Regions from separate parts of the Homo sapiens genome. Here region 1 is linked to region 2. Evidence: fine-mapped expression QTL. A gene starts in region 2. The other region holds a variant in brackets. All regions are shown on one strand. Distances are between the middles of the regions.

The links. PIP is the estimated chance that this variant, and not a neighbour inherited with it, causes the effect.
Region 1: its variant is fine-mapped to the expression of TRIM4 in whole blood (INTERVAL, PIP above 0.99).

Annotation. Positions count from the first base shown.
Region 1 is chr7:99,891,670-99,904,697 of GRCh38, forward strand. It overlaps TRIM4 (tripartite motif containing 4), which reads right to left. Exons shown (of 6, transcript NM_033091.3): 4 at 11,907-11,929; 5 at 11,549-11,646; 6 at 1-1,077. The coding sequence ends at 494. Among named protein-coding and RNA genes, the nearest start is that of OR2AE1, 21 kb to the left of the region's middle. The variant G/A (reference allele first, on the strand shown) is at 4,738.
Region 2 is chr7:99,911,633-99,927,916 of GRCh38, forward strand. TRIM4 (tripartite motif containing 4) reads right to left here and starts at 7,898. Exons shown (of 6, transcript NM_033091.3): 1 at 7,377-7,898. The coding sequence starts at 7,769. LOC101927610 (a long non-coding RNA gene) reads left to right here and starts at 7,971. Exons shown (of 2, transcript XR_001745296.3): 1 at 7,971-8,195; 2 at 9,552-13,682. It overlaps GJC3 (gap junction protein gamma 3), which reads right to left. Exons shown (of 2, transcript NM_181538.3): 2 at 11,634-11,971. The coding sequence ends at 11,913. RefSeq lists a silencer at 7,470-7,629 and enhancers at 7,760-7,809, 7,840-7,919, 8,160-8,269.

The DNA.
Region 1 (13,028 bases), 22 kb before region 2:
TGTTCACACTACGTCCCTTTAGTGCAGTTACGGTACTTCAGGCTGCAAGTAACCAAATACAACTAAAATTGTCTTATACAATAAGGGCGTAATTATCTCATATAACAAGAAGCTTGGCATGAAGGAAATTTCAACAATTTCACAACGGCAACAAAAACTCTGTTTCTTCTACCTTTCCACCATTCCTGTGTTCTCAGTTCCAATATGGCTGCTAACATCCATATGTCTTCCCCGCACATCTCTTTAAAAGCTACAAAAAGATTTCCCAAAAGCGTCTTGGAAAATTTCCTGTCCCATCTCCATTGGCCAGACCCACCTCCCATGGGACTGCCTCTTGTGAAGCACACAAAGGGCAGATACCAAACGGTACCGTTAGGGAGACCCAGAAGATGGACCATCCAGGATAGAGACATGAAGGGCAGAAGAGGGCCCAGGGATGTGTGTCCCTCAGCTGGACTACAGGGAAGGAGTTTTGGTCAGGGGAAGAAAAGCCTCATTTCCTATCAGTCACTGGTGGAATGACTAAAGATGCTAATGGACTCAACCAAAAAAATGGCCGGAGGCGTGAGACAGAAGAACAAGAAAAGGTGTGCAGGTGCACTCCGTCCACAGCGCTGTAGAAGGAGACATTCCCAGTCCCACGATCCAGGTAAACCCCCACTCGGTGGAGAGCTGGCTCTTGCTGGGTGGGAGTTCCAGGGAAGCCTATCAAGGGCCAATAGCCAGCAGCACTCCAATAAATCGCCCAGATGCCCACATCTGGGGACATTTTTGAACGATCAGTAATTCCCATGACGTCCTCCCGACACACCCCAACAGCAACCTCCAGACTATCTCTACTCTCAACTTCCCAGTAATGTTTCCCTGAGGTGAAAACGTTTTTTCCCAGAACACAGGGTAAGTGCTGAAATCTCTCTACAAAAGCAGTCTTCTGAGGATTCCTCCATCCAGCAAAGTAGTTCCATGCTGAAGAAAACACTGGCCAAGAACTGGCTGATGCTGTATTTTTCACGTATCTCCCTTCCTGGGAGAAGACGAGTTTGGGATGAGCTGTGTCTTCAGCTAGGTTTACAGCCACTGTGGAGAAAATGAGAGCTAAGTAGTGCAGCAGCTTATCATCAACCCTTCCCCAGAAATGCCCATCTTTTCCAGCATCAGTTTCATCTTTCTCCTCCTAACAAACACTCATGACTCCACTGCTGCCCAACTGATCCTCAGCCAGGCCTAGCAGGCCACAGCATGGCCTTTAGCAACCTGAAGTCCTCATTTCCCTTCTGCTCTAAAAGACTAAGCCCTAGACCAGGCGCAGTGACTCATGCCTGTAATCCCAGCACTTTGGGAGGCTGAGGCAGGGAGATCACTGGAGGTCACGAGAGTGAGACCAGCCTGGCCAACATGGCGAAACCCCGTCTCTACTGAAAATACCAAAAAACAAACAAACAAAAAAACTGGCCCGGCATGATGGTGGGCACCTGTAATCCCAGTTACTGGGGAGGCTGAGGCAGAAGAATCACTTAAACCCAGAAGGCGGAGGTTGTAGTGACCCGAGATCGTGCCACTGCACTCCAGCCTGGGTGACAGAGCAAGATTCTATCTTTAAAAAAAAAAAGACTAACCTCTAGAAACTGGGGATCTAATTATTTCATGCCCCAAGTTTTCACAAACAGCCTAAAATTTGGAGAGATATTAACAAATTCTCACGTTGAATCAAAACTAGAACCAAGGCTGCCGACTAGCTGGTTCTTTGGCTAGATACACACAGGTGTCACATAGGACAGAATAATGAGGTCTCTTTTCACGGGTTCCAGTTGTTTATGGGGCATCTCCACAAATCTCCCCACAGATCATTCAAAACTGAACTAATTATCTTACTTACACCCCCTTCTATACTCTCGGGACTAATCCACTTCATATGCAGACATCTTGCCTTCTATGTTCTCTAAGGTGTCAGAGTCCCCTCCACCTGAACACTCATGCTTTTAAATCTTTATTTTCGACTCTTTCCTCTAACCTTCAATAGCTAGTTAGTCACCAAGTCCTACCAATTCTACCTCTGAAATTTGTCACTCAGGTTCTTTTCCTCCCCTCCACTCCCATTGCCACTGCCTTTACTCCAATCTCCAGTGTCACTCAATGTGTTAATAATGTCCTCCCTGGCCTCCCTGACTCCAAATTCCCTTCCCTCTAACTCTCCATGTCTCTTGAGTTTGAGGACTTTTTTTAAAAAAAATCAGGAATGTATGCTAGAGTTTGACAAATGCTTTTCCTGCTTCCACTGAGACAATCACATGGTTTTCCTTTTTTTTTTTTTTTTACTTTAGTGATATAAACTACATCGATTTTCAAATATTAAACCAACTATGCTCTTCTGGGATAAATCTCACATATTGTGATTATTATACATTATCCTTTTTGTATACCAAAGGATATATAAATTGGTTGTGATTATTACATATTATCCTTTTAATATATTGTTGGATTCAATTTGCTAAAGTTTTCTGAGAATTTAGGTATCTATGTTCATGAGAGACATTGATGTATAATTCTTTTCTCTTGTGACGTCTTTGTCTGATTTTGGCATCATGGTAATACAGGCCTCACAGAAAGAATTGGGAAATATTCCCTCTTCATCAATTTTCAATAGGAGTTCTTGAAGAATTGGCATTTATTTCTTAAATGTTTGGTGAAATGTTTCACCAAGAAAATCATCTGGGGACCAGGCGCGGTGGCTCATGCCTGTAATCCCAATGCTTTGGGAGGCCAAGGCAGTGGATTACGAGGTCAGGAGTTCAAGACCAGCCTGACCAACATGGTGAAACCCCATCTCTACTAAAAAAAAATACAAAAATTAGCCAGGCATGGTGGCGCGCACCTGCAGTCCCAGCTACTTGGGAGGCTGAGGCAGGAGAATCACTTGAACCTGGGAGGTGGAGGTTGCAGTAAGCTGAGATTGCACCACTGCGCCCCAGCCTAGGCAACAGACCAAGACTCCATCCCCCCCCCAAAAAAAAAAAGAAAAGAAAAGAAAGAAAAGAAACAAAACGAAAGCCATTTGGAAGGTTTCTAATAGCAATTTCTTTCATAGAAATAAGATTATTCCAGTTATCTCTATCTTCATGAGTCAGCTTTTGTAATTTGTGTCTTTTAAGGACTTCATCCATTTCATCTATATTGTCAAGTTTATTGGCAAAAAGTTGCTCTTAATATTCTATTATCCTTTTAATATCTGCAGAATCTGTAATGATGTCACCTTTCTCATTTCTGACATTAGTAATGTGTGTTTTCTTTTTTTCTGATCATTTTGATTAAAGGTGTGTCAATTTTACTGAAATTCTCAAAGGACCAGCTTTTGGTTTCATTGGTTTCTGTTGGCTTTCTGTATTTCACTGCAATGATTTCTGCTCTGATTTTTATTATTTCCATTCTTCTGTTTACTTTGGGCTTTACTTGCTCCTCTTTCTCTAGTGTCTTAAGGTGGAAGCTGAGGTCAGTGATTTGAGAAGTTTCTTCTTTCCAATATAGCACTATACACTTTTCTTTAAGTTTTGCTTTAGGTGCATCCCACAAATTCTGGTATATTGTCTTTTCCTTTTCATTCCATTCAAACTACTTCCTAATTTGCCTTTTGATTTCTTCTTTAATTCAAGGGTTACTAAAAAGTCTATTATTTAGATTCTTGATATTTAGGGGGGTTTCTAAGGATATTTTGATACTGATTTCTATCAATTCCATTGTGATCAGAGAACATACTCTGAATGATCGGAATCCTTTGAATTTGACACTTGCTTTACAGCCAGCTTAGTCTATCTTGGAAAATGTTTCACGTACACTGAAAAAAATATGTAGTATATAGCTGTTGGGTAGAGTGTTCTATAAATAATGGGATCAAGTTGATTGATAATATTATTCAAGTCTACTATATCCCTGCTGATTTATTGCCTAATTATTCTAAAAATTATTAAAAGGTACTGAAAACTGCAAACGTAATTGTGAATTTGTGTATTTCTTCTTGCAGCTCTATTAGTTTTTGCTTAATATGTTTGAAGCACTGTTAAGTGCAGAAATGTTTAGAACTTACATTCTCTTGACGAACTGACCACTTTATCATTAGGATATAACATTCTTTATCTCTGGTAATATCCTTTGCTCAGAAATCTACTTTGATACTAATATACCCACTCCAGATCTATTAACATATCTTTTTCCATTCTTTTGCTTTAAACGTATATGGTTCTTCATATTTAATGTGTTTCTTTTCCAGTAAAAAATTGGGTCTTATTTTTTTTTTTTAGCCAATCCAACCAACTTCTGCCTTTTGATTAGCGCATGCAGACCATTTATAGTTAATGTGATTATTAGTATGATTAGATTTGTGTCTATTATTTTGCTGTTTTCTATTTGTCCTATATGTTTTCTTCTTTTTCTGCCTTATTTTTTATTAATCTTTTTTTATAATTCCACTTTATTTCCTTTTATTGACTAGCTACATCTCTTTTATTTTAGTGGTTTAAGGTTTATGGTATCGTATGGCAGATGCACCTGACAGCAATAACTCAAGCATACCCTAACAATGACCCTATGGTCCAAGTAGAATGTGGGTTCACACTTCCAAGCTAAGAAATGTGGGAGTGGCCAACTCAGAGATCTGCTCCTTTTCTAGGAAGGACATCTGAACATCTGAACCTCTGGCCCATTCTTGGAATGCAGGCTGTACAGAGGATCAAGGCCCTTTGATTC[G/A]GGTTAAATGGAGGTTGTTAGGAGCAGGTTGCTAAGTGAAAATGCTATATAATCTGCATGCTTTTTACAAACAGTAGCAACTGGTTTTCGTGTCCAGCCCACTGCTCCTGGACCACCCAGCATATAAGTCCTCAATAAATCCTATGTCTCATTCACCGGCTCCAGGTTTCTTCCACCTCTCAGACACAGTGCCATCCGTACTGAAATCAATAGGGGTCTAGCACAACAATTAGCCCAGCAGGAGGTTGGAGAAAATTCCACGAGTGCCAAGACAATGGGATCAGGGGAGAATCCACGGTGGAAATCCTGGGCTGGTTGTCCACATGTATGTGGGGCCCAATAGCCACTATCCTTGATGGGTGGGGCCCACCAGGTGAGTATGGGGATACCCCCAAAATGCCAAAAGTTCTGGAAGAACTGCTGCAGGGGGTGGATCCAACTAAGGGAAAGTCAAATGCCCAAGCTGTGGCAGCTGCAGTTGGCCGGCCAGTCCTGACTGTGCTTAGAGCAGCCCCCAAGGTTGAGCTTGTGGCACAGGCAAGGGTGTACCACTTACAAGATGAGCTGCAACTAGGGAGATATTAGCTCAGGCTAATTTCTGTCCCACCTGTGGGAACAGGATGACAAAATGGAGACACTGGTTTGTTGCATAGCCTGTTTGAAGGGTCACTGACTGCCACATGGAGTTAGGACTATCATGACTAAATTGTCCTGGAACCCTAAGTCCTGGGACCCCGTGAAGAGATCTAGTGGCAGGGAGGATGAGGACTGGGATGAGTCCATAGAGGTTCCCATCCTCTCAGCATGTCTGATGGTCACTACCAAGATAAAAGAAGACCAACCACACCCACAGAGGGTAGCCCTACAAGACTTGCCTCCACCTGAAAGAAGGCAGACCACCACAATGCAGGATTATACCGCTGTGGAAATGGTGAAGCTGGGAAGTAAGTTCAAACAGAGTGGGAGACAGTCGATCCCACCCTCCCTGGGATTTTACACTCTCCCACTTAGTAGAAATGGATTTTGAATGTTCCCGATGCAGATAATGATAAATGTTTGAGGTGATGAATATGCTAATTACCCTGATTTTATCATTATGCACTGTATACATGTATTGAAACATCACACTGTACCTCATAAATATGTAAAATTATTATGTAGCAACTAAAAAAAAGAACAAAAGATTTCTCAAGTCGGTTCTTGCACTCCATGGGGGAAAGGCCTAGAAAAGAATATACAGGTCACACCTATTTTACATCCTACTCCCCAACCCCCTGTATTTCCAAAATAATGAATCCCAGTCTTCCTTGTGCAAGGGGACAATCATCCTCTTATAGAACATTATAATACCCCCCACTGTCTTACTCTGGCCACTTGCAAAGCATTGCAAAGGGCCCAATCCACTTTGTATTATAAACCAGGCGCCAGGCCACTGCCAGGGGTGGTGCTCTCAGAATGACACAACTTCCTGTGTCTTACTAAATGGCTTCCCCTTTCTTGTACCCACTAAACATCTCACCTGTTGCCCACAGATGGGGTGCAGCAAACCGCTTCACCAACTGGGTGCACATGGTGACCTCTTTCCAGAACACAACAGACTATTGGGTCTGCAGAGAGTTGCCCCTCTCCTCCACAATGGGCCTGCCATGGGGCATCCATGCTGCTAACTTGAGTACCTGGAGCCATGTCTATATTTGGCATGATAAGTCTCACCCACTTCCCTTCAGCACCACCACCACATTATGCAGTGCGTTTCCCACCATCAGTGAGACAAGATGACATATTTTCCACCTAGTATGGGAGCAGGTTAGTGCTACCCCAGCTGTGGGGTATTCCATACACGATGGACAAGGGTGAGTAACAAGAGTGCAGATACAGGTAGTAAGTCATGCACCCTTATGTACTGAAAGGCATGATAATAGCATGTCACAAGCTAAACTCTTAATGTGGGGTGGCTACCCCCACAGCAATGCAACCAATCCCTTCAAATAGCCAATAATATGTGGCTAGGGTGGCACAGTAACTGTCTCCACGTAGGGGCCCATGCCCTCCCCTTGGGGATGGCTACAGGTAGACGGCAACCACAGCTGGCCTTACTTACCCTAAAATTGGGCTGGTAGATGCACCTGGGGTCGTCTTCACCTGCCGGACACATTCTGTCCCATTGAGACACCATTCTTACTAACTGGGAGAGTATAAAAGCCAGGCACTTCCAGAAGTGTGCATTCTGGAGTTGCAATTTGGAGACCTCGCTAAACATATGGCTGCAGCCTTCAAGGATACCTGTGCCATGCCATTACTCTTCTCACTGGGCAACTGTGTAAAATCGCATGGCCCTGGATATCTTAACTGCTGCCCTGGGTGGAAGCTGCACATTAATTAAAACCAAATGTTGTGTATATATCCCTATTACTCTCACATTATAACCGGGGTTATGTGAACCCTAGAAACCCATATTTCAGTAAAAATTCTCTATCTTATCAAGTGCTTGGAAAAGCTTTCTGTAGAGTATGATTGCTACTATGCTTGTCATTGTCTTTTGTTGCTGTAGTTTCTAACGCTGCTGCAGCATCTGGCAGCAATGCTACTGCACATACCTTGCCTCAGGGAAGTTGCAGAGAATGACGTGATAAGAATGTGGGGGCCATTCAAGGGTATGCTGGACTGCAGTGTACGGCAGACACACCTGACAGCAGTAACTCCAGCACACCCTGAGAATAACCCTATGGTCTAAGAAGACTGTGTATTCAGAGTTCTGAGCTAAAGAATCCAGGAGTGGCCAACCCAGAAATGCACTCCTCATCTATAAAGGCCATGTGAACTCCTGGTCCATTCCTTGGAATGCAGGCAATACAGGGAATCGAGGCCCTTTCTTTTGGGTTAAATGGAAGGTCCCAGGTGGAGATTGCTAAATGAAAATGCTATATATAACCTGCATGCTTTTTACAAATAGCAGTGGTTTGTTTTCCTGTCCAGCTGGCCATTCCTGGACTGCCCTGCATGTAGGTCTTCAATAAACCCCATGTCTCATTCACTACTCCAGATCTCCTCTTCGGCCTTTCAGACACGGTGCCATCCTTAATGAAGTCAGTAGGGGACTGGCACAAGTATACACCTTTTTATCAGTCTCCCTTCAAGTGATATTATACCACTTCACACATGAGAACTGTATCATAGTATACTTTCATCTCTCCTCTCCCAATCTTCACACTACTGTCATGGATTTTACTTTTAAATATAAGTTCCAAAATACACCATATTTTGTCTGTTGAAATAGTCAATTATTAGGGTTCTCCAAAGGAACAGAACCAAAAGGATATATATGTCTGTGTCTGTGTATGGTGGGTGGGTGTGTGTGCGCACACGTGCATGCATGCACCTGTGAGTTTTCTGGGTTTTCTTTTGAGATGGGGTCTCGCTGTTGCCCATGCTGGAGTGCAGTGGTGCAATCACAGCTCACTGCGGCCTCAACCTCCTGGGCTTAAGCCATCCTCCCGCCGTGGCCTCCCAAGTAACTGGGACTACAGGCACACACCAGCACACTAATTATTTTATTTTTTGTAGAGACAGGGTCTCACTATGTTGCCCAGGCTGGCCTCAAACTCCTGGCCTCAAGCAATCCTCCTAACTCAGCCTCCCAAAGAATTGGGATTACAGATGTGAGCCACCACACCCAGCCAGTGTATAAGATTTAATATAAGGAACTGGCTTGTGTGATTATTGCTACTGACAAGTCCGAATCTGCTGTGTGAGTTGGCAGGCTCAAGACCCAGATAGAGCCAGCGTTCTAGTTGGAAGGCCATTAGGCAGGAAGAGCCAATGCTGCAGTGAAGGCCAAGGTAGTATGCTTTAGAAATCCATCAGAAAGGTCAAGCCTTTTTTTTCTATTCAAGCCTTCAACTGATTAGATGAGGCCCACCCACATTATGAAGGGCAGTCTACACAGGCTTACTGACTTAAATGTTAATCTTATCCAAAATCACCCTCAAAAAAACACCCAAAATAATTTTTGACCAATATCTGGGCACTCTGTGGCCCAGTCAAGTTGATGTATAAACTTACCATCGCAATTCCTTTTTAAAGGAATAAATAATGACAATAATATATATTTATTCGTGTCATTACCATTTCTGGTGCTCTTTTATTCCTTTGTGTAGAGAGATTTCCATCTGGCATTTTCCTTCTGTCTGAAGGACTTCCTTTAAGACTTCCTTTCTTGAAGTGTCAGTCTGCTGTAAACTCTTTCTTTTAAGCTTTAGTTTACCTCCAAACTTATTTATTTCACCTTTGTTTTTGAAGGATATTTTTTGCCAGTTCTAGAACTCTAGGTTAACAGTTTTTTTCTTTCAGGACTTTAAAGAGTTTGCTTACTGGCATTGTTTCCAATGAGAAGTGTAATGTCAACTTCGTCTTTGTTCCACTGCAAGTAACTATCCTCTCCCCTGGTTGCATTTAAGATTTTCTTTTTAACACTGGTTTCCAGCAAGTTATGATGAGCCTTGGCATATTTTTCTTCATATTTCTCATACTCAGGGTTTGTTGAGCATCTTGGATCTGTGGACTTAGTTTTTATTATATTCAGAAAATCTTTGGCCATTATGTCTTCAAGTATTTTTCCTATTCCATCTCCCTCCCCACTCCTCTCTTTCAGGGACGCCAATCACCATAGATAATAAGGCTGCATAAAGTTGTCCCACAGGTCACTGATGCTCTTTGTGTTTTTGTAAATTGTTTTATTCTGTGTATGTTTCATTTTTTTGTAGTTTCCATTGCTCTGTCTTCAAGTTCACCAATTTTTTCTTTTGTAATATTTAATCAACTATTAATCCCATCCAGTGCATTCTTCGCCTTAATCACATTTTTCATCTTTAAAACTTTGATCTGGTCTCTATGTACCTCTTTACAGAATACACTCATAATAAATGTTTTAAAGTCCTTCCATGCTTATTCTAACATCTGTGTCAATTCTAGGTCAGTTTCAGTTGATTATTTTCCTCCATTATGGGTCACTGCTTTCCTATCTTTTTGCATGCATATTTGACTGGATGCCAGACATTGTGAATTTATATTGTTAGGTGCTCTTTTTTTGTTTATTTCTACCAATTTTCTAGGGCTTTATCCTGGGATGCAGTTAAGTTAGTTGGAAAGAGTTTGACCCCTTTGGGTCTTGCTTTCATGATTTGTAAGGTGGGTGTGGAGCAGCACCCAGTCAAGGGCTAAATATTTTCTGCTAATGAGGCAAGATTTTCCTGAGTACGCTACTCAGTGCCCGTGAACTACGAGTTTTCTGGTGTGGCTGATAGGAACTGGCACTGTTCCTGGCCCTGTGTGAGCACCAGGAACCGTTCCCTCTAATCGTTTTAGAAGCTTCTATCTCCAGCCTTGAGTAGATTTTCACAGGCATGTGCTGATCAGAACTCTGCCAAACAACTAGGAAGCTCCTCCATAGATGGCGAGGGTTCTCTCTGTGTCCGGCTCTCTCCGCTCCAGGATACTGCCCAGTACTTTGCGAACTCTCACTACTTTGTTCTCCGTGAACTCCCAGGTCTATTCCTCAACTCAGCAAGTCTCCCTGGCTCTACCTCAGTTACCTCAGCCTTACATGGTCTGGAAACTCCCTCAGGCAGAGGGTAGGGCAATCATAGGCTGACCTCATTTGTTTCACATTTCTCAGGAATCACCGTCCTTCACTGCCTGACGTCTGGTGCTTTGAAAACGGTTGTTTCACATATTGTGCCTGTTTTGTTTTTGTGTTTTTATTTTAGTTGCTGCAGACAAGAAAACAACTCGTTTATTTACTCCATTTTGGCTAGAAGTGAACACCCACAACATGGTTCTTTTTAGTTTGTTTGTTTTTTGAGACAGAGTCTCACTCTATCGCCCAGTCTGGAGTGCAGTGGATACAATCTCAGCTCACTGCAACCTCCACCTCCCAGGTTCAAGCGATTCTCCTGCCTCAGCCTCCCGAGTAGCTGGGATTACAGGTGCACACCACTATGCTCAGCTAATTTTTGTATTTTAGTAGAGACAGGGTTTCACCATGTTGGCCAGGCTGGTCTCGAACTCCTGACCTCAAATGATCCGCCTGCCTCGACCTCCCAAAGTGCTGGGATTACAGACATGAGCCTTCGTGCCCGGCCTACAACATGGTTCTTAATCAAACATGTGCACATAAGAATCACCAGCACAGCTTCTAGAGCATGTACCTGCCTTGGTGCCTCCCTGGAGATCCAATGAGTTTATTTTCAGTCTGTCCTACACTCTTCTTCTCAACCTCAACCTCTACCTTTCCTCAAAATACACCTTGTTCTTTAGCCTCTTTGGATACCCACCCCTCCATGTTCTCCACACCTTAGCTCATGCTGCTGCTTCTGCTTGAAACAGTCATCCCTGTTTTCCACCTGCCAAACTCCTACTAATCCCTCAAATCTCAAAACTGTCGCCTCTGCTGTGAAAACTTTCCCATCTCGCCCCCAACAGAGCCCTTCCTCTGAATTTCTGTAACATTTTATTCCTACCACCAGCAAACACTGGCTCCTACTATATCACTGTGAGTGCTGTGTGTCTGTCTCTCCAATGTGCTTACGAACTCATGAAGAAGTGAACAGGTCTCTTCTTTTTGTATCACTAGCACCTTGTAACAGTGCGTTAAATAAATGTTTCTTGAATGAAGTGTATACCCATTTATTAACCACCTTTCCTGACACTCTATTAGCTGCATGCTGTTTCCTCTTTCCTCTCCAGACTTCTCTCTTTATTCTCCTATTTGAAAGATTTCTAAGGAGCCCCAAGTCCTAGAAATTCTGCTCACCTTGGAATCGCTTTAGCATTTCCTTCATCAATGGTATCTGGCACACTGTCTTCACCTTTACAGCTTCAAGAGAATAGTTCACATCCTGGATCTCACTCCTAAGAAGGTAGAGAAGACTGCTCTTAGGGGACAACTAGGGTAGCCAAGACCTCCACTCCCGGTCAAAGGTTCTTAGCCCAAAGTTCAGATGGCTTCTGTTCCCATTCCTCCTCCCAGAAACAATCAGGAGAATTTTTCCTCAGACCCCCATTAGGGTGTGCCCAGACTGACCTATGGATCCTAGGCCTTGTTTCCCCTCTGCTCAGCCTGTATCTTTACCATGCCACCCAGGTCCCCATAAGAGAACAGGAGTGCATACCTGGTCAACACTTCTTTTGGATTCTGTGAAAAGAAGGAAGACATAAGCAAATTACGAACCTTCTCCTGGAGACCTGGAATACAACTGTGTGAGCAGGTATTTTCTGACGGTTGCATTTGCTCATGTCACATATGATCTCCTGCTGCCAAAGCCAACAGATTGACAGAATCTGGTCCTTTCTTTCACGTGGCCCCTCTGCACTTATTCGACAATGCTGCCTGCGCCCCTCCTCTTTCTCCTTTGGCACTATGACATAAACTGGCTCCTGGCTTCCTGCCGGCCTCCCCAACTAGTCTCAATCACAGAGCCTGCTCCTTTGCGTGCCTTTTGGTGGGTCCTCAGCAGCTCCAGCTTTGAGCTTCCACTCTTCTCCTTCCTGTTGTTTTACAAGATTGCTTTTAAATTATAATCGCAAGGGATATTTTATCATGCCCAAGTCCAAAGAGATTTTCTACAGGTGAATTTTACTAAACTTTATGGAACTGAAAATACCCTAAGTTATAACACAAAAGAGAAAAATATAAATTTTCCCAACTGATTTTTCAGAGACTATTATAACCTTGTTCCTTAAGCCATGAAATGAAACAGTAGAAAAAAATTACAGACCCATTTTACTTAAAGACATAGATGTGAAAATTCTAAGTAACATATCAGGTAACCAATGGCAACGTGTATTTAAAAAATACAGCTCCTCCAAAAACCTGTAACTCAGCCTAATCAAGAAAAAAACAGACAAATTCCAATAGGGGAGCATCCTACAAAATACCTGACCAACACTCCTCAAAACTTTCAAGATCATCAAAAACCAGAAAAGTCTCAGAAAATGTCACAGCCAAGAGGCACCTAAGGAGAGACAATGACAACCAAATGAAATCTGGTATCCTGGGTGTGGTTCTAGAAAATAAAATGAATACTAGGTAAAAACTGAGGAAATGGAAATAAACTACAAACTCTAGTTAGTAAACTGTATCACTGGTTCATTAATTGTAACAAATGAACTATATTAACACTAGATGTTGACAATAGGGGAAACTGGGTGAAGGGGTATGTGGGAACTCTGTCCCATCTTCTCAACTTTTTGGTAAACCTAAATTGTTCATTTTTTTAAAAAAACTGGTTAAT
Region 2 (16,284 bases):
ACAAGGTTGATAACATCAAAGTTGGCAAGGGTATGGAGCAACTGGAACTCTTACACAACATTAGCAGGCGAATGAAATGCTACCACCATTTTGGAAGAAGGTTCAGTGTAAAACTAAACATACATTAATCCTAGGGTACAGCAATTCTACTCCTAGACCCTGGAAAAATGAAAACATGTACCCATAAATAGACCTGTACAAGAATATTCATCGCAGCTTTATTCACAATAGCTAGAAGCTGGAAACAGTCCAGGTATTCATTGATAGGAAGGTGGATAAATAATGGCAAAAACCGCAATTACATTTGCACCAACCTATACAAAAATGGATAAATCTCAAAATCAATATGCTGAGCAAAAGGATCCATACAGACAATGGAATTCCATTTATATGAAGTTCTGGAACAGGCAAAACCTAATTTGTGTTTGAAAAAAAATCAGAACGGTGGTTGCCCTGGTAGGGGAAGGGTGCAGAGAATAACTGGGAAAGGGCATGAAAGAATTCTCTGGATGGTAATATCCTTTATCTTGAGAAGGGCATTTGTCAAAGCTCAGCAAATGTACAACTAAGATTTGTGTTTTTCATGGTATTAAATTTTACCTCAAAAAATACCATAGGCCAGGCACGGTGGCTCACGCCTGTAACCCCAGCATTTTGGGAGGCCAAGGCAGGTGGACAGCTTGAGGCCAAGAGTTCGAGACCAGCCTGGGCAACATGGTGAAACCCTGTCTCTACTAAAATACAAAAGAAATAGCCAGGTGTGGTGGCACAAGCCTGTAATCCAGCTACTTGGGAGGCTGAGGCATGAGAATCGCTTGAACCCAGAGGCAAAGGTTTCAGTGAGCCGAGATCACACCACTGCACTCCAGCCTGGGTAACAGAATGAGACTCTACATATTAAAAAAAAAAAATAATACCATAAACAAATGTTAAATCTGGTTAATGATATACATGCTGAAGTATTTTGTTTGCAATTGAATTTTAAAAGCATCAAAAGGAAATAAGAATTGATGTATTCAGAGAGATACAGACAAATGGACAGCTATGTGATAAAAGAGTCAAATGTTAATGGTAGAATCTACATGTGGGTACACTGGTGTTACTACAAAATTCTTCCAACTTTGATGTATGCTTGAAATTTTCATGGTAAAATGAAATAGGAAAACAAAATTAAATTATAAAAGGGATTCATACAGTTCTGTTAAATGGCACAATACCATCTGTGCTATTCTGTTTCTACCATGATGTTTCCTAACATTATATCATCTATTTACTATCTCTAGTAGTTAACTTTAATAGGCATGTAACCCTGCTACTCTCTCATGTAATTTCACTTTATTCAATTATAACTGCCGCTTTGTGGTCACTGTCAAATTTGATGTATATGAGGTTTGTAATGAGATATATATTAGTTCCTTCAAATAGGACCAAGTTTTTGAAAGTTTTCACTTTGCTTGATAATGAAAAATATAATAATCTACTAAATAGAGATTTTCTATGTCTTAAAAAGCCTTAACAAGTCAGTATGCATGAATTCTCTCATATGGTTCTACTACTCAAGACTCTACCCAAGTTTTTTTCAATCTGGCCACAGTTGGAATCTAAACTGGGAGGTGAGTTAACTTGACAGCCTTGGTGGAAGTTAGAAAACACTTTCCCTGCAACAACAGAAACTGCCAGGAGGTGGCAGGAGCGCAACACCAAGCATTTCAATCTGGGTTAGAAATACCAGAAATTTTAAAAATCACTCTCTCAGCTAGGTGCGGTGGCTCACGCCTGTAATCCCAGCACTTTGGGAGGCCAAGGCGGGCAGATTACGAGGTCAGGAGTTCCAGAGCAGCCTGACCAACATGGTGAAACCCCGTCTTTACTAAAAATACAAAAAAAAATTAGCCGGGCATGGTGGCACACGCCTGTAATCCCAGCTACTCAGGAAGCTGAGGCAGGAAAATCGCTTGAACCCGGGAGGTGGAGGTTGCAGTGAGCTGGGATCGCGCCACTGCACTCCAGCCTGGGCAACACAGTGAGACTCCATCTCAAATAAATAAATAAATAAATAAATAAAAATAATAATTTTTTTAAAAATCACTTTCTCTTAATTTAGCACCAGAAAATTATACGTATATGAAAACACAAGTGTAATAAAAGAGCATACTTTTATAGAATGAAGACATTTACTGACTTGTGATCATGTAGCTCAAACAACATTAAACTTCCAAAGATCTTAGTTTCACTCTAGACCTTCAAACCAGCTGTGCATCTGTGAGCAAGTCAGCCTTGCTTATTTCCTGGATCAAGGCTTCCTTAACTATAAAATGAAGACAACTGGACCAAATGTCTCTTAAATACCATCCCAGCTCTTGAGTTCTATGAATTTCAGTCACTGTAACTTCTGCAATTGATCCAAGCTGGTAGGTGTACTTTGGAAATATACCTCAAATCTACCTACATGCCAAACCCCACTGCCACCGCTAGTTGAAGCCACCATCATCTTTTGTCTGACAACTACAATAACCTCCCGACTGCCCTCCCTACTTACAGTCATGTCCTTCTCTCATACAATATCCACAACGCAGCCACAGTGGCACGATCATAGCTCACTGCAGCCTCGAACTCCTGAGTGCAAGTGATCCTCTAGTCTCGGCCTCCCGAATAGCTGGGACTACAGATGTGCATCACTACATCCAGCTAATTTTTGTATTTTTTGTAGAGATGGGATCTCACAGTTGCCTAGGCTGGTCTTGAACTCCCGGACTCAAGCAATCCTCCTGCCTCAGCCTCCCAAAGTGCCAGGATTATAGGCATAAGCCACCACACCTGGCCTTGGAATAACTTTTCTAAAAACTAATCAGATATTGTCACTCTCCTGCTCAAGATTCTTCACTGGCTTTCCTCTTCACCAAGAAAATCTGAACACTTCATTGTGGCCCAACATAAGCTGACCGCTGCCTACATCTCGTTTCACATCGCATGCCACCTTTCCCCTTGCTCTTGGTCCTCCAGGTGCAGAGACCTTCTTCCTACCCCATAAACATATCCAGCTCTCCCCCGCCTCAGGGCCTCTTCCCACAGTTCCTCAGATGGCAGACTCTGCATCCAGCAAGTTTCAGCTGCAATGTCACCTCCTAAGAGAAGACTGCTCCCTTCTCTGGCATAGCACTTTTTCTTTTTTTCTTTTTTTCTTTTTTTTTTCTTGAGACGGAGTCTTGCTCTGTCACCCAGGCTGAAGTGCAGTGACATGATCTCGGCTCACTGCAACCTCCGCCTCCCGGATTCAAGCAATTCTCCTGCCTCAGCCTCCCAACTAGCTGGGATTACAGGTGCCCACCGCCGCACCTAGCTGATTTTTGTATTTTTAGTAAAGACAGGGTTTCACCATGTTGGCCAGGCTGGTCTCAAACTCCTGACCTCAAGGGATCCTCGCGTCTCAGCCTCCCAAAGTGCTGGGATTACAGGCGTGAGCCACTGCGCCTGGCCTAGGATAGCACTTTCTTTTTCTTTCCCAGCATGCCATCACCATCTGTGATTATTTCATTTATTTGTCTGTCTGCTATCTACCTCCCACCCTCAGCCCAACTGGACTGTGAGCTCCATGGAAAGCCTTTACCTGTCTTGTTCACCACTGGATTCCCAGTGCTGCATCTGGTGCCGTGCCACAGCATCTGACACAAAGCCAGTGCTCAATAAACATCTTAAATTAATTAACAGAATGGAGGGATTAGCTCCTAGAGTCAGGCATGAAGGAAAAAAGAGCTGCACTTGGAGGCCTTTTCCATGCAAACAATTTGCATCCGGAGATTTATGAAGCTATTTCTCTTTCTCTTTTCTCTTTTTCTCCCCTCACCATAACGGGTATAGGATGGGGATATTTTCCATGGATTTAGGGAACTTCCAGCTATCCAACTTTTAAAACACAGTCCATCCATCTGAGTATATGCTGAGAATGGGATGCTTGGAAATAAAGCAGCTTCACCCAGGGGCAGTTTATGTTTTTCTAACTAACTTGGGGTGGGGATGGAATGAAAGGTGGTTGAATAGGGCAGTGACTAAGCAGAGGAGGATGGAGAGATGGGCGGATATCAGGGAATTCCGCCCAGTGACCTGGCTCCTGAACACCTACGAAGTCAACCTTGTGACATTCAGCCCATCCCAGTGTAACCCTTACCCATCCACTCCTGTCCTGTTGGGCCATTGTGTTTAATCCTGAAATCCCACCTCTTCTAAGAAGTCTTCTCAGATTAGTTGTGGCAGAGTGAAAAGTGTAAAGGATTAGGGGTTAGAAGACCTCAGTTCAAGCATAGCCACTTCCTAGTTCTGTGACCTCGGGGGCATGTAACCTCACATCTCTGTGGCACAGTTGCCTCATCTTCAAAAAGGGAATAACAGAATCCACCTAATAGGATGTCTATGAAGATTAAAGAATTACAGTATGAAAAATGCTTAGAACTGTGGGTGGTACGTAAGAAGTAATGAACAACTGATAGCTATTACTGCTGAAGATGGAAGATTTAAGGGCTATGTTCCCCTTTCATACCCATCCACTTATATTTCCCTCGGCCCCCACCCACAAGTGTATTTTCCCTTCCATTTATCTGATGGGTCCTCTCCATGTCTTTTGCTGGCTACCAACCATTGGTGTTTCCCAAGCTTCTCTTTGTGCCTTTTTTTACTCTCTATGTGGTCCTCCTAGGAGAATCTCATCTTCTTACTTCTTCCATGACTTCAAGAACAGGCTGAGGATTCTAAAATATTATCTCTAGCCTCCAAGGCACCCCACCTCCTGTCCCTCTTCCTTGGACTTCCTGTCACAATTACTTCACACTCAGTACATTCCACAAGCATGGGATCTTCTGTCCTAAGACTACGCTTCCTCCTGTGTACCTTACCTCAGTTAACCTGACAGTCATCTACCTGCCATCTGAAGCAGAAATCTGAACTACCATCCAAGACTCCTCTCTCTCTCACCCACCAAGTCTAATTGATCACCAAGTCATTCAACTCCAGCTCATTATCACTCCATCCCTCCCTCTCCATCATCCCTGCCCTGAACTAATTCAGGTCTTTATTACCTCCTGCTTAAAATGGTACAAGAGCAGCCTAATTAGTCTTCTCTTCCATTCATCCACGTGGATGTCAAAGTTACCTGTCTAAAACAAAAAAAACGATCATATCATTCCCTGCCTTAAAACCCTTTTATAACTCCCCACTGCCTGAAAGAGAAAGTTCAATCTTTTTACTATGGCAAACAAGATCCTTCATGATAAGGCCCTGCCTTTTTCTTCAAGCTCATGGCCCACCATCCTCCTTCCCATGCTCCATGCTCCAGAAGTACTGAGCAACCTCCAGTCCTCTCACACACCACATGCTATCCCACTCCACCACATTTGGAATATGCTGTTCCTTTGGCCTGAAATACCTTCTTTCCTACCTCTACTCACCCTTGAAGAGCTAACACATTTAACTCCTCAACGGAGCCTTTCCTCACTCCTCAGTGATCACTCCGACCTCAGACCTTCTGTACACTTGGTAAATACTTCAGCTACTCTCACACACACTGAAATTAATGTTGTACACGCTTAAGTTCCTTACAAGACAAAGCCCATGTCTTTCTCATCCACTTATGTCCAGATTCTAAAACAATGTTTGGCAAATAGTAAGCATCAATAAACGTTACTGAGTGAAGGAATGAACATACACTTTCTAGTCCAGCTTTGTGTCTGTTTCCTGTTCATAGTCAGCTGGTACAACTGTACAGTATTTTACAGTTTCCAAACATTTTCACTGTGTCATTAAATTCATGTGTTTGGCCAGGAAAGCTTGCTCACGCCTGTAATCCCAGCACTTTGGGAGGCCAAGGTGGGTGGATCACCTGAGGTCAGGAGTTCGAGACCAGCCTGACCAACATAGTGAAACCCTGTCTTCACTAAAAATACAAAATTAGCTGGGCATGCTGGCAGGTGCCTGTAATCCCAGCTACTCGGTAAGCTGAGGCAGGAGAATCACTTGAACCCGGGAGGTGGAGGTTGCAGTGAGTTGAGATCTCACCACTGCATTCCAGCCTGGGCAACAAGAGCGAAACTCCATCTCAAAAACAATAATAATAAAATAAATAAATAAATTCATGTGTTCATGTACTTACTGCATATCAATTCTGCTGGAGACCACTGGAGTTACACCATCAGTAATGGGAGGGGGTGGGGCTACTCTGGAAAGGATGATCAGGGAAGGTCTTCAAGCTAAAAGCTAAAAGGATCTAAAGGATAGATGTGGGTAGAGAAAGAGAACAGACTTGAAACAAAAGCAAGAAAGCCAGTATGGCTGAAGCAGAGTAAGGTAAAGTGATTTATTCAACCGGAGCTTCTTAACCCATGAGATAGGACAGATAATCCCCAAATTCAAATGTTACAGGATTTTCCCAACTGATGAAGGAAGCTAGTAACAAAACCCAGCCTCATCATTACAAGCTAGGCTTTTCCCAAATCATCAGCTGTCTATGACATTTACAGATACAGACAGGCACTGTCCAATACAGTATCCATTTAGCCATACAAGCACCTGAAACGTGGATATTCCAAACTGCTATGTGTTGTAAATGTAAAATACACACCAATTTCAGACCTATTATGAAAAAGGAGTATAAAATATCTCATTGAGGCCGGGCGTGGTGACTCACACCTTAATCCCAGCACTATGGGAGGCCAAGCGGGGCAGATCACTTGAGGTCAGCAGTTCGAGACCAGCCTGGCCAAGATGGTGAAACCCCTCTATACTAAAAAACAAAAATTAACCGGGTGTGGTGGCGTGTGCCTGTAATCCCAGCTACTCGGGAGGCTGAGGCAGGAGAACTGCTTGAACCCCGGAGGAGGAGGTTGCAGTGAGCCAAGATCACGCCACTGTGCTCCAGCCTGGGCAATAAAGTGAGACTCCATCTCAGAAAAAAAAAAAAAATCTCATTGATAATTTTCATCTCAGCTTTGAATATTTGGGGTAATCAGATTAAATAAAATATATTATTACAATTAACGTCACCTCGTTTCCTTATCTTACCAGAAAGATTTTAAATTACATATGTGGTTTCTATTGGACAGCAGCGGCACACACCCTCTCAGTATGTTTTTCTTTATTATGAGCTCCCCAAGGGCCAGTTTATTGAAAATTCTGCACAATGATTGCTGAGGTTTGCACCTCCCCTCCTCTCATTCCAGTTTTAACCCTAGCTCTGAAATTCGTGTTTTGCTTAACTTCTTTGAGTTTCAGGGGCTTTTCATGCTTCCAGTAGGAATGACAGCCACTTCGTGGCTCTTTTAGGAGCATTAAGTAAACTTTATCGGGCAACACTGACAGCCCCGTCATAGTCACCGCGACGGCCAGCTCACCCGGTAGCTCTCGAAGGCCTCGTCGATGGGTGCCATGGCGTGAGTCTGGTGCTCCTGGGACTCCCTGCACACCAGGCACACTGGCCGCTGGTCGTCCTCGCAGAAGAGCCGCAGCGGCTCCCAGTGGCGGCCGCACAGGCCCGGGGGCACGGGGCCCAGGCGCCGGCGCTGCGTCTTCTCAGTCAGCCTGGCCAGGGCCCAGTTGGGTCGCAGCGCGGCGGGCGCCGATGGGTGCCGACATTCGGGGCAGGGGAACGGGCCGCCGCCCGGCGCCCAGTTGCGGTGCAGGCAGCCGCGGCAGAAGTTGTGGCCGCACTCGATGGACACCGGGTCCTGGAAATAGTCCAGGCAGATGGGGCAGGTCAACTCCTCCTGGATGTCCTCAGCTTCCATGCTGCTTCCCTGCCGCGGAGACGGAGTCCGACGTGAGGCGCGGGAGAGGCCAGCAAGCTGCGAGCGGCCGCGGGGAGGCCAGACGACTTCCGAACCGCCGTCACCGCCTCACGTAAAAGGGTACAACGCAGTTTCTCTTCCGGGGTTCAGGACCCAAAAAGAACGCACGGACGTTGCCCGGCCTGAGCGCGCAAGACCGGAAGCTGCTGGGTATCCGCGCCGGAACCGCGAGGGGGTTGGTTCAGGCCTAGGCGCGGGGCAGGACGGGACCGGTGAGTGGCTCCTCCAAACAGCTATAGAGACCCAGAAATGCCTGTGGAAAGCTACAGAGGACTTGGGCAAGGCGTTAGAGCCGGACGTTGTGGTCCCTGGGGGAGCCAACCGGGGAGGTGCCTATGATCTTTCTTTCCAAGTTTGAGGGTTCAGGTCTGTGTTCGCCTGCTGGTTAGACCGATTTAAGTTTTAGAGTCCCAGGAGTTCTGGGCGAGCTGCAGCCTAGGGGCCTGGAAGGCCAGGAAGACTTGAAGGATCTGTGTTGGTAGGCCTGGAGTTTGGCTAACGTGGGGATGATTTGGATTCTGAGATGCAGATACATTGCCTTTTTGGTATCCAATTTGAAAAGTAGCAACCATTTTGCTATCCCAAAGAACATCCATGGAGGCTTTCAACAAATAATATGCTCACCTGTTTCAGGGAATTATCTATATCCCTTAAGTGGATTTTCGATCTTGTGTTTCTGAGGTGCTTTGCTTTTTATTCTTCCCACTTTCTTCCTTTTCTTGTGAATATTTGTTTAAAACAAAAAAAACTCTGGACTGACAAATTTAATAGAAGCTATTTGCACAAAGAACAGTTCATGAATTGGGCAGCACTCAGAACCAAAAGAGGTTCAGAGAGCTCTGTCCAGCAGTATGACCTGCTAGCTTTTATAGGAAGCAAAGTAGAGAAATCACCTCATTAGCTAACATCTAGGTGTCTGCCTTATTTGACAATGATATGATGAGGCATTTGCCTTATTGGGGCATGGTCTGATCAGTTGGCTGTCTGTTATTTGCTGAAGCTCGGCCGTGATTGGCTGAAACCCAGCTGTTATAAAAAATAAAGTAAGTTAGGCTTCAGTTCGTTTACATACTAAGTCAGGTTGTATTTTGTTATATGGGAACTCAAGTACCAAGACAGCCTCAGGCTAATGGGCTTTTGCTTATTTAACAGATTTTTCATTCTTTTTATGTCCCAATATCAAATACTGCCTTTCCTATAATAATTTTTCTCAGTAAGTAGTATGATTAAATGATTAGAAAAAGGGGTTCTTGAGGTATCTGTTTGGGGGTTATTGATGAAAGTTCCACTGAATATTTCTAAAACATTTAAATTGGACAACTAATGAATGGATTTTCTTTGCAAATTGGAATACTCTATGGAGAAGGGATCTGGTTCTTTAATAGGGACCAAGCAGGAAGGAATGCTCTTAACAGTTACTGATGTTTACCATGAGTGTTTATGGCATCTGTGTGTCTATATGTTTACCTAAGTATTGAATGAGAAGTTTCAGCATTCCTGCAAAGTATTTATTCCCCTTACAGTAGTCATTTAAATCTTTTCAGGTAAATCCCTTAAAATCCTTATGTCTTTATTCCTGCCATACCAGAGATGACCTTCCTTCTTTACTAAGTGAGGCTCCCTAATTAACAATTTTTCTCCATCACAAAATGTCTATAAGTCTGTATACCAGCCAAGGTTCATTCAGAGAAGTGGAATCACTATGTTTCTTTATGTTCGCAGGGCAAGCAGTTAAGAAGGGAAGATGAACATAAAGTAGGGAAGAGCAAAAATGAGTTGGAACCTAAGACACGAGCTGGTCATTCTTTCACTGTCTCCAACTTTAAAGATATGAGTATCCTTGCTAGAGGAGCTGACACTTTTTGCCACAGGACTAGACACACACACAGCTCAGGAATCAAAAAAGGTGAAGGAAGACTCAGGGAAAAGCTTCTGCCCCATCCCAACAAGGTGAACCAGCTGATTGGTGACAAAGTAGATGAGCCGCAGTAGCACCTAGTGTCCCTGCACCACCGTTTCAAGTATAAAACTGGAGGGATGCTTCAGTTCTCCCCTTCAAGACTTACACAACCATGTCTCTGTTGGGCTATTCTAACCAGAAACAAAAGGAAAGGAAATTCTGGGAAACATAGTTTAGCTTAGCAAAGTTGATATATTACAAAATTACCACTGTCCACTCTGCATCGAGTTGACATCCATACAGACCTCTTTAAAACACACTTTCAAAATAAAGTCCACACCCTACACATAAGCTATCTCTAGAGAAATTTGAAGTCTGTTGTGCACTGAGGATAACCACAACAACAAACTGTAAACCTAGCCCAATTTCTGACTAGACTGATACCACCGAACCACTGCTATGCACTCAAGAGCACTAAAGGCCTAGCAGAAGGAAAGACACACTCATCTCCAAGCATAAAAACAATCTTTACTTCATACTGTGAAGAGAGAATTGAAAAAATAATTTAAGCAAAAAAAATACAACATGACTAACTTTTAACAGAAAGAAAAAAAGACGCATACAGAAAGGCAAGAAAAAACACAGTCCAAAGAGATAAAACAATCATTAGAACCAGATTCATAAGACATAGACATTAGAAATATGAGAGAATTTTAAATAACTGTGATTAATGTGATGAAGGCCCTAAGGGGAAAGGTGAACAAAATGCAAGCTCAGATGGGTGATTTTAGCAAATAGATGGAAACTATCAGGAAAAATAAAATGGAAACTATAAAAATAAAAAATATAATAATAGAGATGAAGAATGCCCTCCATGGGCCCATTAGGAGACTGAACACAGTTGAGGAAAAAATCAGACTTGAAGGTAGGTAAATAGAAATTGCTGAAACACACACACACACACACACAAAAAGAGTGACAGAAACAGAACACAGCATCCAAGACTGGTGGGAAAATATCAACATCAAATCAAGAAATAGGCGCAGTGGCTCACCCCTGTAATCCCAGCACTTGGGGAGGCCGAGGCAGGCAGATCACGAGGTCAGGAGATCGAGACCATCCTAGCTAACGCAGTGAAACCCCGTCTCTACTAAAAATTCAAAAAAATTAGCCGGGCATGGTAGCAGGCACCTGTCGTCCCAGCTACTCGGGAGGCTGAGGTAAGAGAATTGCGTGAACCCGGGAGGCGGAGCTTGCAGTGAGCTGAGATCACACCACTGCACTCCAGCCTGGGCGACAGAGCAAGACTCTATCTCAAAAAAAAAAAAAAAATCAAGAAATAATGGCTGAGAATTTCCAAAATTTGTAAGACACCAAACCAATCCAAGGAGCTCAGAGAACACAGAGCAGGATAAATTCTTTAAAAAGAAACTAAGCTTATTGTATTCAAACTAAGCTTATTGTATTGATACCTGGTAGTTATAACTTACCAAATACACTGCCCAACATCTCCAGATGATCTATTATTTCTGAAAGTTTCCTTTATTACATTTCTTACTTCAGGGAGATATAGCCTTCGCTTCATGTTATGGTTGGTGCAGTCAGTATTCTCAGAAAGAAAGTACTGGTTCCATTTTACCTCCATCTTTTGTTTCCTGTCAGAAAACCTACCATACCACCAAGTACTCCTTCTCTACACTGCCTCTGATATTTAAGTAATTTGAGAATTCTGTTGAGACTATCTCCCTTTTTTGGTATGATGAATCTGGTCCTAAATTGCATGCCAAAGACTTTGAGAACTAAACTGTAGACCCAGATCTCATGTCCCAGACTGGCCTTTTGTTACCCACACAATGAATGGGTTAAATTGCTTGGCAGGGGACAGTCCAATGACCACAACCAAGGAGGATTTCCCAGGGGGATTTTATTACTTGCGATAAGTAAGGAGGACACTGGGAATAATTCCCCAAAGCAATGCCTCCCTGAGCAATGGTGCAAACATGGCTTTTATTAGTCTGGTTAGCTGAGTCATTGTATGTAGAGGTGGAGTCAAGGCAGCGCAGTCCCAGTTGTCGGTTATGCTGCTACATATGTCACATGTATAGAAAATGGTGAATAAGCTCCTCCTTGGACAGGATTTTAAGTATGGTGATGAGGAAAGTTGGCCAAAGTTCATCTCCAACTCAGGCATCTCTGGGTCCAACTGGTCTTTGTTTTTCCTGGGCTAAGCTTCTTCCTGGAACTTTTTAAAACAAAAATTCAAGATGTAACAGTTACAAGTGTGTAACTTTTTCACAGTGCGTACCCAAAACCCAAGGACCCTGGGTTACACTTTAGGTGCCACCCATGTGGGACCTATCAGAAGAGTACTACAAAGGCTTTGAAAACTGAACTGACATTGGAACCACAACCCTCAGAAGGCTGGTCAAAACTTATGACTTGAACCCAAATGGGTTAATTACCCTTTAAAACATAAATATCAACATCCTCCACCAAATTTAACCAAGACCCAGAGCATCCTAATGACATTCAAAATGTCCAGGATACAATCGATATTAATTGGCAGGTGAAGAACCAGGAAAATCTCAACTCACGTTGGGAAAAAATGTAACAGATGCAGAATGTAAGTTGCCACACATGTTGGAATTATCAAGACTATAAAGCTGCTATTCAAATGGAAAGTTTAAAAGTCTCAGAGAAGTAATAGAAAATACAAAGAATAGCCCCATGGAAATTTTAGAACGGGAAAATACAAAAACCGTCATCACATCATATCCGGGGCACATGCTGTCAACATTGCTCATCACTGTTGATGTTAACCTTGATCACCCGGCTGAGGTAGTATTTGATGGGTTTCTCCCTGTAAAGTTATTCTTTCCCCTCCCCCTATTTTACTGTTTAGTGGGAAGTCACTATGTGCAGCCCATGCCTAAAAAGGGAGTAGTTGGTGGGCACGGTGGCTCACGCCTGTAATCCCAGCACTTTGGGAGGCTGAGTGGGTGGATCACCTGAGGTCAGGAGTTCGAGACCAGCTTGGCCGACATGGTGAAACCCCGTCTCTGCTAAAAATACAAAAATTAGCCAGGCATGGTGGTGCACGCCTGTAATCCCAGCTATTCAGGAGGCTGAGGCAGGAGAACTGCTTGAACCTGGGAGGCAGAGATTGCAGTGATCCTGCCATTGCACTCCAGCCTGGGCGATGAGCAAAATTCCATCTCAAAAGAAAAAAAAGTGAGTAGTTATATTTCCCCTCCTTGCGGTGGAGTATCTACATTCTTCTGCATGAGAAATTTGTCAGTTATCTCCTATTTATTCAATTATTTATATTATGAATTCATGGATTCCTATTTTATACTTTGGGTATAATCCAATACTATGTTGTTTATTTTACTGCTCAGATTATTCCTGTGTTGGCCATTGGGAACTTTTTCAGTTGACATCTGTGTCCCTTTGACAAACTCCTGTCATTTTGTGGGGAAGAGGGAGTAGCACTTTCTTACTTTCTACCGCTACAAAATCCTCCAGTCTTATCTTGTATTTCTCTTCCCTAACCCTAAAGTCAATCATTCTCATTTCTCTAATGATAAATGATGTTAAACATCTTTTCATATGCTTTCTTATTATCTGTATATCTTCTCTGATGATTACCAAGGATGGGAAGGGTAGTAGGGGGAAAGTGGAGATGGTTAATGGGTACAAAAAATAGAATGAATAAGAATTAGTAGTTGATAGCACAACAGGGTGATTACAGTCAAAAATAATTGTACATTATAAAATAACTAGTATAATTGGATTATTTATAACAAAGGCTGAAGGCTTGAGGTGATAAATACCCCATTTACCCTGATGTGACTATTACACATTGCATACCTGTATCAAAATACCTTGTATACCCCATAAATATATAACCTACTATGTACCCATTTAAATAAAAAAAGTTTTTAAAAAAGAAATAGTGCTGAGACAATTGAATATCCACATGCAAAAGATAAAGTTTGACATTTATCTTACACCATACACAAAAATTAACTCAAAACCAACCAGAGACCTAAATGTAAGAGCTGAAACTATACAACTCTTATGGAAACATAGGCATTAATCTTTATGGCTGTGAATTAGGCAATAGTTTCTTAGGTAATACACAAAAATCATAAGCAACAAAAGAAAAAATTGGATGTTAGACTTCATTAAAATTTAAAACTTTTGTGCATCACTATCAAGAAAGTGAAAGACAATCATAGAATGGGAGAAGATATTTGGAAATCATACATACAATAAGTATCTAATACCCACAATATATAAAGAGCTCTTACAATGCAACAACAAAAATACAAAAAACTCTATTTATAAATGGGAAAAGGATTTGAATAGACATTTCTCCAAAGAAGATATACAAATAACCACTAAGCACATGGAAAATGTTCAATGTAATTAGCCATTAGGCAAGTGCAAATCAAAACTACAATGAGATACCACTTCACACCCACTAGGATGGCTAGAATTTAATAGATAAATAAAAAGTATTCCCACATTGCTGGTAGGAATGTAAAAATAGTGCAGCTGCTGTGGAAAAGAGTTTGGCAGTTCCTCAAAAGTTGAAACGTGGAGTTTCCTTATGACCCAGACATTCTATTCCTGGTTATTTATGCAAGAGAACTGACAACATGTGTTTACACAACACTAAAACTGGGGCCAGGTGTGGTGGCTCAGGACTGTTGTTCCAGCACTTTGGGAAGCTGAGGCAGGCAGATAACCTGAGGTCAGGAGTTTGAGACCAGCCTGGCCAACATGGCAAAACCCTGTCTCTACAAAAAATACAAAAATTAGCTGGGTGTGGTGGTGCGCACCTGTAGTCCCAGGTACTCAGGACGCTGAAGCAGGAGAATCGCTTGAACCCAGGAAGTGGAGGTTGCAATAAGCCAAGATCACACCACTGCACTCCAGTCTGGGTGACAGAGTGAGACTCCATCCCAAAAAAAAAAAAAAAAGTGGTACACATATGTTCATAGCAACAGTGGTCATAAGAGCCAAAAAATGGAAACAACCCAAATGTCCTGAAACTGAAGAATGTATAAACAAAATGTGGTATCTCCTTAAACAAAATGTGGTATATCCTAACAGTGGAATAACACTCAACCATATAAAGGAATGTAATACTGAAACATGCCACAACATGAATGAACCTCAAGTTATGCTCAGTGAAAGAAGCCAGACATGAAAGACCACATATTGCATGATTCCATTTGTATGAAAGAGTAGGAAAACCAATAGAGACAAAACCATATGATGGTTGCATGTTTTGGGTGCTAATAAGAGTTTGAGAGTAACATGAGGGGGTAGGGTTTTTTTAAGTTGATGAAAATGTTATTAAATTGGTAGTGTTGATGGATATACAACTCTGAATATACTAAAGGCTATTTAATTGTATACTTTTGTCACTGGTAGAGGATAGTGACTGCAAGTTGTCCAGGTTCTTGGCGTTTTGAACAAGGAATTGGACAAAACTCCTAGCAAAGCAAAGAAAGGATGAAGCAACAAAAGAACGAAAGCAGGGATTTATTGAAAACCAAAGTACACGCCACAGTGTGGGAGCAATCCGAGCAGCGGTTCAAGGGCACGGATACACAATCTTCTTGGGTCCCAGTACCCACTAGAAGTTTCCCTTTGGCCAGTTCATGCTTTGCAGAAAGCAACCAATCAGAGGCTAGGAAGAAGTTACGAAGTTGCAAAGGAAGACTCATCTGCAAACAGCCTGATTTGTTGGGGACAGGCAATTTCCCATCTGCTGCACAGAAAAGGTGGGGGTGTTGCAAAGGGAGTAGCCTCTGGTCCTTGTGTTACTTAGGCAAGGAAAGTTAGAGTTTTCCTTTCAATTTAGTCCTAGGAAGTTGGCGTGAAACAGCCTTAGGTTCCCTTCCTCCAGAACCTATTCTCCTGCCTCACTTTAAGTGGATAAATTATATGGTGTATGAATTATATCTCAATAAAGCTGTTTTAAAAGGGGGTGGTATAAGGAAGAATTCCAAATGATGCTATTTGCGTTTTTCCTTGGTCACTTTGGCTGGGCTCTGGCTACAGTGGATGAGGGATTCTTATGAAGCACTTGTGTAGCAGGAAGAAAAAAAAAATTTCCTAGCTATTGCCAAAGCATCCCTTGGGATCCCCTAACTTACTTGGGGATAATTTGGGATTCAGAAAGAGAAAAAAAAATAGATAACTGCCTTTGTTGAGAATTTCAGGGCAAGAGAAAACTAAGAAAAGAGGGCAGCGTTCTGTTAAAAAAAAAAAGGGATAGAACAACACTGTCCAACAGAAATGACTAAGAGACTCGAGAAGACTGATATTCAGATTGCAGTTACCCGCCGAATCACACTGTGATGTCAGCCTCCCTTGCTGTTACTCCCAAATCAGCATATCAGCAGTAGAACTCTACTGCTTTTTCTGTGTGGTATTGAGGGTTATGAAATTAAAGAGTAGGAACTTGGTCCAGCATGAGTTGCTGCAGTTCTGGAGACAATTGTAACAAGCTGCAACGAGAACTGCAGAAATGAAGAA